2 linked regions of the Homo sapiens genome follow. The protein of the gene in region 2 purifies or fractionates together with the protein of the main gene of each other region. This does not show direct contact. Each region holds a gene or a part of one and is shown on either strand. Other genes may lie near its edges.

Evidence for each region. Proteins that work in one complex are often made in the same cells at the same time.
Region 1: the proteins of SPA17 (region 2) and PRKAR2B purify together in Homo sapiens (affinity purification with mass spectrometry; 3 studies listed by BioGRID and IntAct, with this or other methods). This does not show direct contact.

Annotation. Positions count from the first base shown.
Region 1 is NC_000007.14:107,152,698-107,159,731, forward strand, and holds part of PRKAR2B (cAMP-dependent protein kinase type II-beta regulatory subunit), read left to right. Parts: intron 1-479; coding exon 480-554; intron 555-4,286; coding exon 4,287-4,352; intron 4,353-4,488; coding exon 4,489-4,627; intron 4,628-6,751; coding exon 6,752-6,885; 3' UTR 6,886-7,034. UniProt on the Homo sapiens protein: Regulatory subunit of the cAMP-dependent protein kinases involved in cAMP signaling in cells. Type II regulatory chains mediate membrane association by binding to anchoring proteins, including the MAP2 kinase.
Region 2 is NC_000011.10:124,676,894-124,683,927, forward strand, and holds part of SPA17 (sperm surface protein Sp17), read left to right. Parts: intron 1-4,495; coding exon 4,496-4,566; intron 4,567-7,034. UniProt on the Homo sapiens protein: Sperm surface zona pellucida binding protein. Helps to bind spermatozoa to the zona pellucida with high affinity. Might function in binding zona pellucida and carbohydrates.

The sequences.
Region 1 (7,034 bases), on a different chromosome or scaffold from region 2:
CTGTTGGATTATCAGCTTACATCTGGTAAAAATTTTGTCCACATCACACAGTGCGTGGTAGACAGCTGATCTTTTCCAGCAGCATATTTCTTTAAATAAGAGTAGGTCAGGGATTGGAAATCTGGTGCCTTCAGAGCTAGGCAGGTAACACAGAGAAGAAAACCAAGCCAGGAAGGGACTTTGGCAGATTGGAGAACATGTATTTCATTAAAGAAACAGCTGCTATCCCACCATAGTTTTATTGTTGCCATGTGGAAATATGGGCTATGTGATGCTGATTTTTCAAGAGAAGCTGGAGATTGAATTTTTATGAAAAATTATTTTAAAATGCTGGCTGGTAATTAATACAACAAACACATATACAACCTACACACTGCTCGATTTATTTGGCCTATAGGCTACCAGTTTTTTACTCCCGAACTAGATAAGCTTACCCAGTTAATTTGTTTCTATTTAATATTGTTTTTCTTTCTTTGTAGTTTTCTGAACGCCTGAAAGTAGTAGATGTGATAGGCACCAAAGTATACAACGATGGAGAACAAATCATTGCTCAGGTATGATATTTTGAAATGTAATTCAGTTTAGGGTTATATTCCAAAAGGTTCCTGTAGTGGTAGATCTTGATAAACTTTTCATATTTCTAAAATTAGTATGCAGTGATGGGTTAAATAAATATTACTTCTACCAAATGACCTGTTAAAAATGGTTTCATTTATAGTCATTACTCTATTGAATATTTTTGTTTATGTAATTAACTCCTAATGAAGGTGTATTAAACCATCAAATGGTTTTCTGCATCATTGTAGTCATTTATAAGAGGAAAAAACAGGTGAATGTTCCATGACATTAATGAGGACCCAGAAAGTACACTGGAAAATTCTATAGAGTTTTGCATGATCAGTTCATGATGAAAATTCCTGAGGCTGCTCCTTGATAAAATTCACCAAGAAAGGAACACACTGCAACATATACTGTTTTGGCTTCCAAGACTACATGTGGGTCAACATGTTATTTAATCCCTAATACTTTTCTAAGATCCCAGCTGGAACCAATAATATTAGATACCTGGGTTGGAGTAGGGCTACCAAAAGTAGAATTTGTGAAGACTGTTGAAGTTCACAGGTAAAGCATGCAGATGATAGTACCTTGTTTCCTAGTTATATTTTTGAAGCACTAAGCAAATGATTAAAATGGATTTTTAATAGATTCTGTAATTTTTGTATCACAGCCTTATACTGTTTTGTGCTCTTTATCTGAAATGCAGTCTTTTCCTTTATATGGGAAACAAGATTCAAGGTCTTTGAGACTGAGAAAAAGAATTGTTTTAGAAGACAAATACATAAGTAAATCTTTCGATCAACACCCCTCTCCCATTGCTGAGTGTGTGTGTGTGTATGTGTGTGTTAGAGCAGTCAGGGATTGGGAAGAAATGGAGTCAAGCAAGGTTAAAGTTCTACTGTATAAACTAGTAAATAACAAAGCAAAGAGCATGTTTTAAATGATTTTTTAAGGTTTTATTTTGAAATAATTATAGATTCACAGGAAGTTGCAAAAATAGTTTTGAGAGGTCCCGTGTACTCTTCACCCAGTTTCTCCTAATGCGTTTTGCATCACTGTTAATAACAATATCAAAACTAGGAAAATGACATTGGCATAATTCACAGACCATATTCAGTTTTCACCAGTTTTACATACACTTAGAGCGTGCTTTAAAAATAGTTAAAAATTACTCAGCAGTTAATAGACCTATTATGATTCAGAACACTCGAAAACTTAATATGAAGCTTTTATGAAAACCTGATACAAGAATAAGGGAAAGGAGATATGCTATACTTAGGGTTTATTAAGGATATTCTTACATATTTGTTGTCTTTTAAGCATTTATAAATATACATATACACCCTATATTCTAAAAATCTAAATTCAACATTTATTTTTGTGATAGAATCAGATGCTAAACTTCTTGAATTTGTATTAAGGAGTTTTGAAATATTTTAAGTTTCTCCAGAATCACTTTGAGAGGCTTAGAGAAGTCAGTGTCTGTATTATTATCTTCCATATTGTATTGTTTAATTCAGACTGCATCATTGGAGATCAAGGCAGAGTTCATTAAGAAACAAAAGCAAGAAAGAACAGGTATATGGGTAGAGCAACACTTTTCTTTTAGAAGTCCTTCCAAAGCCTTGAAATGGAATGTCAGTAGGCTAGCATGTCAGAGTTTGGTCCTCAGTTGACTGTAGTGAAAATGTCAAGGCCCACATCTGCTGCTTCCGGCTCCATCTGGATGCTTTCTGCTCTTTGCAAGTTGATGGCTTATCTTGGGTCACCACACCAATGCTTGCGATGTTAGGATGACGCAGGGTGCATGTCTCGGCACTTCCTCAGGAGCACAGGATCCGCAGACATGTTTCTGCCAACTAAGGGGACGCTGCTGGCATACACAGCAGTGTTGCCATTTCCAACTATGTATGCTGTTATCTAGGCTGAAATTTGGGTGAAATTCTTACCCCAGTGTTGCCACATTTTCTTGGTTTTTTAGCAGAAATACAGTGGTAGAGAATATATTATTTCAAGGCCAGGCACAGTGGCTCACGCCTGTAATCCCAGCACTTTGGGAGGCTGAGGCAGGTAGATCACTTCAAGGTCAGGAGTTCGAGACCAGCCTGGCCAACATGGTGAAACCCCATCTCTAATAAAAATACAAAAAAATAAATAAATACGGGTTCTAGATCCCTGAGGAATTGCTACACTGTCCTCCAAAATGGTTGAACCAATCTACATTCCCACCAACAGTGCAAAAGCATTCCTATTTCTCCACAACCTCACCAGCATCTATCGTTGCTTGACTTTTTAATAATTGCCATTCTGACTGGCGTGAGATGGTTTCTCATTATGGTTTTGATTTGCATTTCTCTAATGATCAGTAATGATCTTTTTTTCATTTTTTTTTTGGCTGCATAAATATCTTCTTTTGATTCTTTTGAGAAGTGTCCGTTCATATCCTTTGCCCACTTTTTAATGGCAGAAATACCATTTGACCCAGAAAACCCATTACTGGGTATATACCCAAAGGAATATAAATCATTCTGCTATAAAGACACATGCACACATATGTTTATTGCAGCACTATTTACAATAACAAAGACATGGAACCAACCCAAATGCCCATCAGTGATAGACTGGATAAAGAAAACGTGGTACATATATACCATGGAGTACTATGCAGCCATAAAAAAGAATGAGATAATGTCCTTTGCAGGACATGGATGAAGCTGGAAGCCATCATTCTCAGCAGACTAACACAGGAGTAGAAAACTAAACACCGAATGTTCTCACTCATAAGTGGGAGTTGAACAATAAGAACACATGGACACAGGGAGGGGAACATCACACACCGGGGCCTGTCAGGGGGTGGGGAGTGAAGGTAGGGAGAGTATTAGGACAGATACCTAATGCATGCGGGGCTTAAAACCAGACAGGTTGATAGGTATAGCAAACCTCCATGGCACATGTATACCTGTGTAACAAACCTGCATGTTCTCCACATGTATCCCTGATTTAAAGTAAAATTTTAAAAAAAGGAAAAAAAAATTAGCTGGGTGTGGTAGCACATGCCTGTAATCCCAGCTACTTGGGAGGGTGAGGTGGGAGAGTCGCCTGAATCCAGGAGGTGGAGGCTGCAGTGAGCTGAGATTGCACCACTGCACTCCAGCCTGGGTGACAGAGCGAGACTCCATCTTGGGGGGGAAAAAGAAAGTATTATTTCAAATAATTTTACAAATGAAATCATTACTACATAATTGTCCATCAAAACCTCTTCATTTAGGGCCGGGCTCGGTGGCTCACGCCTGTAATCCCAGCACTTTGGGAGGCCGACGCAGGCAGATCTCGAGGTCAGGAGATCAAGACCATCCTGGCTAACACGTTGAAACCCCGTCTCTACTAAAAATACAAATAAATTAGCCGGGCGTGGTGGCAGACGCCTGTAGTCCCAGCCACCCAGGAGGCTGAGGCAGGAGAATGGTGTGAACCCGGGAGGTGGAGCTTGTAGTGAGCCGAGATCGCGCCACTGCATTCCAGTCTGGGCAACAGAGTGAGACTCCGTCTCAAAAAAAAAAAAAACCTCTTGATTTAGAAACCGAGACAGCTTGTTCCCTTAGGATTTCACTTTTCAGGTGAATATGTGTACTTTGGGGTTGGATCAATTTTAGGGATATGAAAGGTAACAAGATTGTTGTCAATTAATTTGCATTTTCACCGTCTGTTTTTGTTATTGATTCCAATAGGGAGATTCGGCTGATTCTTTTTTCATTGTAGAATCTGGAGAAGTGAAAATTACTATGAAAAGAAAGGTAAGCATTCTAAGTCCTCAGAACCCACATACTGTTAGCAAGGAACACAACAGATCTACTTTTTGATGTTTAGACTGAGGTTAATTTTATTTTTCATAAGCTGAGGAAAAGCTCATCTTTTTAATTGCCTTGTCAGGGTAAATCAGAAGTGGAAGAGAATGGTGCAGTAGAAATCGCTCGATGCTCGCGGGGACAGTACTTTGGAGAGCTTGCCCTGGTAACTAACAAACCTCGAGCAGCTTCTGCCCACGCCATTGGGACTGTCAAATGTTTAGGTAGGGATTGCAACAGTGGGCGTGCTTCTGCTGGTTGAACTTATGTCTGCATTTTATGTATTCATGTTGAGTGAATCATTTTATTGGGTTCACAGGTTTTGTGGTCCCCACAAAAGGTAACAAGATTAGGACTCATTGCCTTATAAAATCAATTTGTGGAAGCCATTTTTTCTTCGAAATTTTTACATCCAGATACATTTTGCTCTTCTTGTGTATATATGAAATAACATCCCATATTAGTCATTAAAATAAGAGTTCCAAGTACCACGTTTTATATGGAATCTCTCAAATAAGCAACATGTGCTATGTTCCTCAAAAGAGAAGGCTAAAGTACTATTTTTATAAAGTCCGTTATTAAGATCTGCGGGGAATGCTGAGATGTTGTGAGAATCCTTACTCATTACAGTATTGGGACACAAAGGTTCAGGTTTGTCAAAGCACAGTCAAATGTTCTTTGCTGTTCAGTTGTTATTACTATTTTACCAGAGTAGCTTGGCAGAAATGTCATCTTCAGGTGCAGGCATCTGTATATATCTGAGATTATATATCTGAGAAATCACTTACTTTGATAAGAAAATACAGTTTAGAAGGTGGCAATATGGAGGGTATTTTAAGAAAATTGATCTCACAGTTATTACCCTCTCTGTGCTTTTCATCCATAATTCAATAGCATAAACTTAATGTTTTTAAGATTTGCAAGGATCCTTAGAATTAACTTCTTAGAGAAGTCATTCTTTAAAAGGGTTTAAATAAGTATAATATTAATCAAGTGTTAAATTTGGATGGAAGAGAAGACGATTAGAAACTGGCAGGTAATTTCCCTAAGTAGGGCTATTAGAAAGAGTAAAGGTGAGTGAGTGAAAGTCTATTAGAAATAGTAAAGGTGAGTGAGTGAAAGTCTATTACAGTAAAGGTGAGTGAGTGAAAGTCTATTAGAAAGAGTAAAGGTGAGTGAGTGAAAGTCTGTTAATTTTTTTTCAATAATAGATTATTATACTCACATCAAAGAAAACCTGAGAAATACAGAAAATGTAGAAAAAACATAACACCGCCACTCAGTGATTTCTGCTATTATAATTCCTTCTTGTCCTTTTTATTTGTGTGGGCTTCCAGTTGTTAAACAGTTTTCCAAACAACTTTTAAAGTTCATTATCGCTTAGGAATGTTCTTATTTTATTACACCAAATTTTAAAATTCTTTTAGGTAAATATATACACGATAAATTAATCATTCCTTAGTGGTAAATACTTCGAAGGTTTTGGCTCCAACTTTTTTGTGGGGAGCAATTTTTTGTGCATAGAAGACTTTTCTGTATTATAGGAGTTTTCCTTAGAAATGGTTTTCAGGAGTGGGTTTTTAAAAAATTAACTTTTGACACATATTGCCAGATTACTTGTATTTGTACACTACTAGCAGTGCCATAATGCCCATTCACCCTATTCTTGTAAACATTGCCTTTTTTATCTTTTTATCTTTAGTGTAAAAGGCAAAGAAGATCTATTTTAATTTGTACTTTTATGTATAGAGTATGATCATATTTTCTATTTATATATTATAAATCCAGTTTTAAAATCCAGGAGACAGGCAAGCAAAGTGATTTCTAGCATGTACTTATAGAAGTAAACAAAAGCATTATGTCAGCTGCCATTTTTGGATTGCATAGACATAGTATGGCAGCAAAACTTACAAAAGGTTAACACTTGGCCTTCACAACATGGCATTTTAAACCCTGAGAAGGGAACACAGGATAGAAAACACTCTTGTGCCACCCTTGAGGAGTTCACATTGCTAAGGTGGAGACAGCACATTTATTTTTTAAAATTCTAAGGTCTTTCCATGATAGTCCCTCATTCTTTTCTCAGCTTGGACCAGGAACCTCCCACCAACTTAGCATTGCTCATCATATTGCCGAGGGACTGCAGAGTGTGGTCCAAGAGCGTGGCCCTGGCTGCTTCCTTTTTCAAGTGGAACATTTTTATCATTATGCTTTTTCTTGTATTTTATAGTATTTACCTAAAATATCATTGCACTATTGATATATATGGAGTCGGTATTGTAAATGACTTAGAAATTCTGCAGATTTGCAAAGAATGTTATTTAAAAAAAAATCTTCTCTTTTCTCAGCAATGGATGTGCAAGCATTTGAAAGGCTTCTGGGACCTTGCATGGAAATTATGAAAAGGAACATCGCTACCTATGAAGAACAGTTAGTTGCCCTGTTTGGAACGAACATGGATATTGTTGAACCCACTGCATGAAGCAAAAGTATGGAGCAAGACCTGTAGTGACAAAATTACACAGTAGTGGTTAGTCCACTGAGAATGTGTTTGTGTAGATGCCAAGCATTTTCTGTGATTTCAGGTTTTTTCCTTTTTTTACATTTACAACGTATCAATAAACAGTAGTG
Region 2 (7,034 bases):
AAAAGTTGGAAGGGGAAAAAACTAAAATTATTTGGGAAAAGAGGTGAATTATAATGAACATCAATTTTATTATAAGATTAACTACAAATTCTTGCAGTAAAAGTCTTTAGTCATTTATTTAATTTTAGAACTCAGAAATATTCCATTATAAAAACATTTGCGTCATTGTTACTGGATCACAATAATTAAAGCAAATGATGATTCAGATTAGTGGTCTCAGGACACTAGCTCTCTAATAAACAATGGGTAAAACCATTTGAAAAAATTGTAAGCACCACACCCAATTCCACCCATGTCAACCAAAGACAAATTATCTAGAAGATACAAGTATCAGAATTCAGTCTCTTCAAAAAGGAAAAAAAACAATCATTATGGACCTCTGGCTCAGTCTCCCACACAATGCAAGAATTCCCTTGCCAGCATTCATCATAGGTGGTTACTACTCTTAATTTTTATTTTTGTGATGGGGAACATGTTAGTATATGATTTAAATGGTATTTCAGGTCACTAGGAAAAAGGTGGACTTTTTGTTATTTTAAGATAAAGGAAAAAGATAAAATTGGATCAATTTCTTATACACAAAGACAAATTCCAAATTAGTCGAGTATATAAATATTTTTTAAAAGAAACCATACAGATACTAGAAGAAAATATGGATGAATTTCTCTATAAGAGAAGAAAAAATTTTGCTAGCTAAATTGCTTTAATTGCTTCAAAAATTCGGAAGCAATTAGAGAAAAGATTGTTATAAATTGACAACATAAAAGTAAACTTTTACATGAGAAAAAGCACTGTGAGGAAAACAAAACTACAAAAGACAAACAAAAAATATTTGCAATTTATATCCCAATGGGTTAATAGCCCTAATAAATAAATAGTTTGTAAAAACAGTGTGTTATAGGCTTATAGAATCCAACAGAAAATATTGGCAAGAGGTATGAGCAAACAATTCACACAAAAATGAATGCAAATGGCACTTATGAAAGTATATTCAAACTAATGCATAATAACAGAAGTCCAAATCAAAACTACACTGAGCTACCAATAACAACCCCTCCATTACATTGGCAAAAAGCCAACATGCTCTGTAGGCTGTGGGATAATAAGCATTTATATACATTGCTGGTAGATAAGCAAAATGCCATAACTTCCAGGAGGGGAACTTAGCAATACCTACCAAAATTATATATGTATTTAACCTTTGACCCGGAGGTGCCACTTCTACACTTTTCAGGGCATCATTCTTTGTAGAAACAACCCAAATATCCACAGGAGTTTGAGTGAACAAACTATAATACATCTATACAACTGAATTATATATATAGCTGTTTTCAAAAATGAGAACTATCTCTCGATAATACTATGGATGATACTGTGGAGTGATTTTCGGGATATATTCAGTGAAAACAGCAAGATGGGGAAAAGTGTGCTTAGTGTGCTACCATTTTTTTTTTAAACACAGACGGGGGTCTCATGATGTTGTCCAGGCTGGCCTCAAACTCCTGGGCTCAAGTGATGATCCTCCTGCCTCAGCCTCCCAAAGTGCTGGAATAACAGCTGTGAGAAACAACACCTGGCCAGTATGCTATCATTTAACAAAAGAGGTTGATATGAATACATAACTGTGTGTGTGTGTGTGTGTGTGTGTGTGTGTGTTTGTGTGTGTATTTGCCACAGGGTTTGGCTCTGGCTCTGTCGCCCAGGCTGAAGTGCAGTGGTGTAATCGTGGCTCCACTGCAACCTCCCAGGCTCAAGCAGCCTTCCCACTTCAGCCTCCCAAGTAGTTGGGAACTACAGGCATGCACAAACACGCTGGGCTAATTTTTGTTTTGGGGAGTTTTTGTTTTTTGTTTTGGCAGAGACAGGGTTTTGCCATGTTATCGAGGCTGGTCTTGAACTCCTGAGCTCAAGCATCCGCCAGCCTCCGCCTCCTAAAGTTCTGGGATTACAAGAATGAGGCACCATGCCCAACTTTGTTTATATTTTTAAATGGAAAAGTAAATCTTTGAAAACTTAACATTTGCCTTTAGGAGAAAGTGAACAGGGTAGAGAGAACATGATAGAAAATATCTTGAATTTCGAATCATAAAAGTTTAACATAGTTATAATTTTAAATTTAAAATTGTTAAGCTACTCGGGAGGCTGAGGCAAGGGAATGGCTTGAACCCAGGAGGCGGAAGTTGCAGTGAGCCGAGATCGCACCACTGCACTCCAGCCTGGTGACAGAGTGAGACTCTGTCTCAAAAAAAAAAAAAAAGCAATTTCTAAAATGTAAAAGCAAAGTGAAACATATGAGCCTAACTAGTATAGACTGCGTGACATAACCATACAGAAAGGAATTATTTCAAGTGATATTAAAATGGAGTAATTTGACCGTACATGCCTAGTGCATATATCCTAAAAACAAAATGAACTTCAAAAAAAAAAACCCTTAAGCTGTTTTCAGTAATCATTGTTAATCATATTATGGTATGGTTATTCTGAAATTATATAGTGAAATTATATATTGTAGAACAAAGCAAGTAAGCAACTAAGCTAGTGTTATTAGGAATAAGATTTTTGGTGCAGGAAAAACAACATACAATTATGAAAATGAAAGAGGTTAATAAAATCCTGTAATCTTAAATTTGAGTTGAAAAATATCAGTGTGACCTCATGTTTTCTCTTTAAAAAATGAAAGAAGTATTTTCTAGCTCTGTACATTAAAGGTCTCAAAACAATGACCAACCCAATACCAGTGAGCACCCAGCTTCCAGGTTGTCATCTCTAAATACCATTCCCAGGAATGAGGGCTTCTTGGAAAACAAGCTAATTTCATGAACTTGGCAGGGAATATACCAGATTAGGCTGAACGTCTTGCCATACCAGAGAACAAGGAAGCTATCAAAGGTTACTAGAGGTGTTTCCAAAGGACTCAGGAACATTTGAGCACCTGAATAAGCTACCACTGGACAAATGTTTAATAATTAGAGCATCAATAAGAATAATACGTGCATTGGATTAAAATGCATCCATTTTCTTAAACATTCGTGAATTTGTGATGGTTAAAAAAAAACTCATTGGTCATCCTGAGAGGATCCTAGGAATCCAACTGATTATTCTGAAAACTGGTAAATAAAAGGAAAGGAAAGAACTAAACCTTTAACCTTTCTTTTCTGTAACAACTGTTCTTCGGAGTAACCAAACAGTTGATGAGGAAAAGTTTTCCTTAATGAGTACTCCAGAAAATAAAGAAGTATTGATCAAATTAGAGCATTACCATTTCACAACCCCTAAGGAAATGATCTAAGCAAGGATCATCAGGGGGCCGATAAAAATTATAAAAAGAGTAACCAGATATTATAAATTTTATGACAGAATTACACAGCACTACCAATCAAGTATACTTGCAGAAAAAAAATCAAACCGTCAAACCCGAATTAGATCAAACCTATACAGCTAGCTACCAGTTTACAGGAAATTCAAAGGCTGAAGAACTTGTTAAAAGCCACCATGGGGATAGTCAGAAACATCTGAACTGTGAAAAACTCCAAAGGGAAAATGACGTAATTTCATCAACAGATAAATTGCAAGGAAAGAATAGGGGCTGGGGGCTCTTCCTTTAAAAGAAATTTAAAAGACATACAAAGAGCTGTGTGTGCCCGTTTTCGGGGTCCTGATTTGAACCAACAAATAAATAGACAATGGAAGAAATTTGGATAGTTGACTGAATAGTTGAGGATATTGAGGAATTATTAATATTTTTAGTATTTTGAAGTATGATAATGGTGGTGTGGTTATATTTTAAAAGAGTATATATTGAGATACATTCTGAAATAAATAATTGTAGATAAAATAACAGGATGCAAGGGGTTGGGTTAAAAATAATCAGAAAAAAGTGCAGAAAAATAATCAGAAGAAAAGGTTATAAATAAAATAAATCATGGGTTGATCATTGAATCTAGACAGTATGCTCATGGGAGTTTGTTATCATATCTACTTTTTAAGTATTGAAATTTTTATAATATAAAGTTAAAGAAAAAAATTGTTTAAAAATAAATACCTCTGCTTGTCTGTGTCAACTGTCTACATAATATACTTCATTAAAAAAAATTTCTCCCATCTTTCACTTTTCCAGACTTTCTGACAACTTAGCATTTAGGTTTATACATTTTTCTGTGTTTACTAATACATGTTCTAAGTGTCTACATTTATATTTAAGTACTGGCATTTGTTCTTTTTCCCATTTTATTATAAATTTTATGAAGGCAGAAATTACGTTTTTAGTGCTTTTCTAAATATCCCCAAAGGCTCATCCAATGTTCAGTTGGTTATCATATGTTTAATAATCACTGGTAATGTCTGCAGTGCTACGCTATGCACAATGTCAATAAGATTTTGGACTGCCAGTAAAGAACCTGTAATTTGAAACAAGAAACTTACATTTGTGTCACTATTCTACATTTACCTTAATGAATTCAAATAAATCTGAAGTTCTTATATTTTTATTATTTAGAAACCAACTTTGATCCAGCAGAATGGGGGAGTAAGGTAGAAGACCGCTTCTATAACAATCATGCATTCGAGGTATGGTCCTTTGAAGCTGTTGGATTTGGCTATTTCTTCTCTCTGTCTACAGCTAGCAATTATTAGGCTATCCCCAGAATTGTGAGAATTATGTGAGGAGGCATCACAAATAACTTATTAAATCTTATTAAATTAAAATTTAATAAATCTTATTTTATTAAAAAGATTATTTATTAAAAAGATTTAATAAAAACTTATTAAATCTTATTAAAACTTATTAAATTAAAATTGTGCTGGGATTTTTTGCTGAGAATATTTTTCTAAAGTATCTGAGTCATGTACAGATATTTCACTTAAGTTTAATGATGAACAACAGGAAGAAGGTGCTTAAAAGTTATGAATAATTATTTCATCATTTATTCTTCAAATGTTTTCAGCATCACAGTGCTAAGCAATAGCAGGTACTCCACAAATAATTACTGAATTAATAGATGATATTTCGTAGACCAAAACACTATTAGTCCAATTATTTCATTATCATCGATATGATATTATTGATACAAAAGACCGGTTAGAATTAAAGGTGGTAATGGTGTAGTTTTCTCTATAAAGCTAGCTTTTTCAGAGTCTGAGCCTTTCTCTTTAGCAGCTTTACAAAGACAGCTTTCTCAACCAAGTTTCCTCAAAAAAATTAAGCCCTAAACCAAAGGCACTAATTGCATGTAAGGAATCAGTGTCCTGATTTGTATCTAGAATGGTTCTGGTTAGGTACCATCCTTGGGAGAATTGAGAAAAGAGCTTCTCAAAACATTCTCTGTGTTCCATGGTTCAGATAATGAATGCTGGTTGAGAAAGGCTGTGTGGAATCAGCATTATTGGCATCAACTGGAAACTTGATAGAAATTCAGAGTCTCACAGGAAACATGAAAAACAAGGAAGTATGACACCCCAGAATGAACACAACAGTTCTCCACTAATAGATCATAACCAGAATGAAATTCTTAAAGTCTCAGATAAGGAACTCAAAATACTGATTTTTAAATATGGTCAGTGAGGTGCAAGAGAAATCTGAAAACCAATACAAAGAACTCAGTGAAACAATTCAGGATATAAATGAAAAATTTTACAAGGTGATAGATTTTTATTTTTAAAAAAACCCTAACATAAATTCTGGAATTGAAGAATTTATTGAAGGAAATATAAAATACATTCAAAAGATTTAACAATAGACTAGACTAAGTGGAACAAAAAAATTTTAGAACTTGAATACAGGTCTGAAACAATCCAGTAAGACAAAAATAAAAAAGAATAAACAAAGCCTTTAAGACATTTGGGACAACATAAAGCAGCTGAATATTTGAATTATTGGTATCCGCAAGGACAAAAAGATCAGAAGGCTTAGAAAACCTATTTAATGCAATAATAGATGAAGACATCACAAGTCTAGCAAGAGATTTAAACATCCAGATATAGGCGGTGCAGTGATTCCCCAAATACAATGCAAAAAAAAAAAAAAAGTTTTCACCACAGCACATTAAAATCAAACTGTCTAAAGTCAAAGAGTGAATTCTAAAAACAGCAAGATGAGAACATCTCATCAACTGTGAGGGAAACCCGATCAGACTAATAACCGTACTTCTCAGCAGAAACCTGACAGGCCAGGAGAGAGTGGGATGATAATTCAAAGAGCTGGAAGAAAACAACTATCAGCCAGGAATTCTATATCCAGCAAAATTAACCTTCATAAATGAAAGAGAAATAAAGTATTTCCCAAACAAGCAAATGCCAAGGGCATTCGTCTGTACTAGGCTGGCCCTACAAGAAGTGTTCAAGGAAATCCTAAACTTGGAAGCAAAAAAATGGAAGTTAGCATCATGAAAACACAGGAAAGTATAAAACTCACTGTTAAAGCGACCACACAAAGGAGGAACAGAAATGAATCAAATGGGCCCACTACAGAATTCCACCAGTCCACAATGACAAACAGTAAGAGAAAAAGAAACAATGTATAAAATAACCAGAAAGCAATTAACAATAAGACAAAAGGAACAAAACTCCACATATCAATAATAACTTTAAACATATATGGATTAAATGCTCAACATAAAAGCTATAGACTGGCTGAATGGATTTCTTTAAAAAAAAAAAAAAAACATGATTCAACTATATGCTGCTAATAGGAAACTCACCTTACCTGTAAAAGCATTTAGACTGAAAGTAAAGAAGTGGAAAAAGATATTCCATGCCAACAGAAACCAAAAGCAAGCAGAAGTAGCTATAGTTACATTAGGTAAAACAGACTTTAAGTTAAAAACAGTAGAAAACAACAACAAACAAGTTTATTTTATAATGATAAAGGGATCAATTCAGTAAGAGGATATAACAATTGTAAATATATACACACCCAGCACTGGAGCAACCAGATTCATTAAAAAAAATTTCTATGTCTAAAGACAGAGGTAGACTGCAATACAATAATAGTGAGGGGCTTCAACACCCCACTCATAGCATTAGACAAATTATCTAAA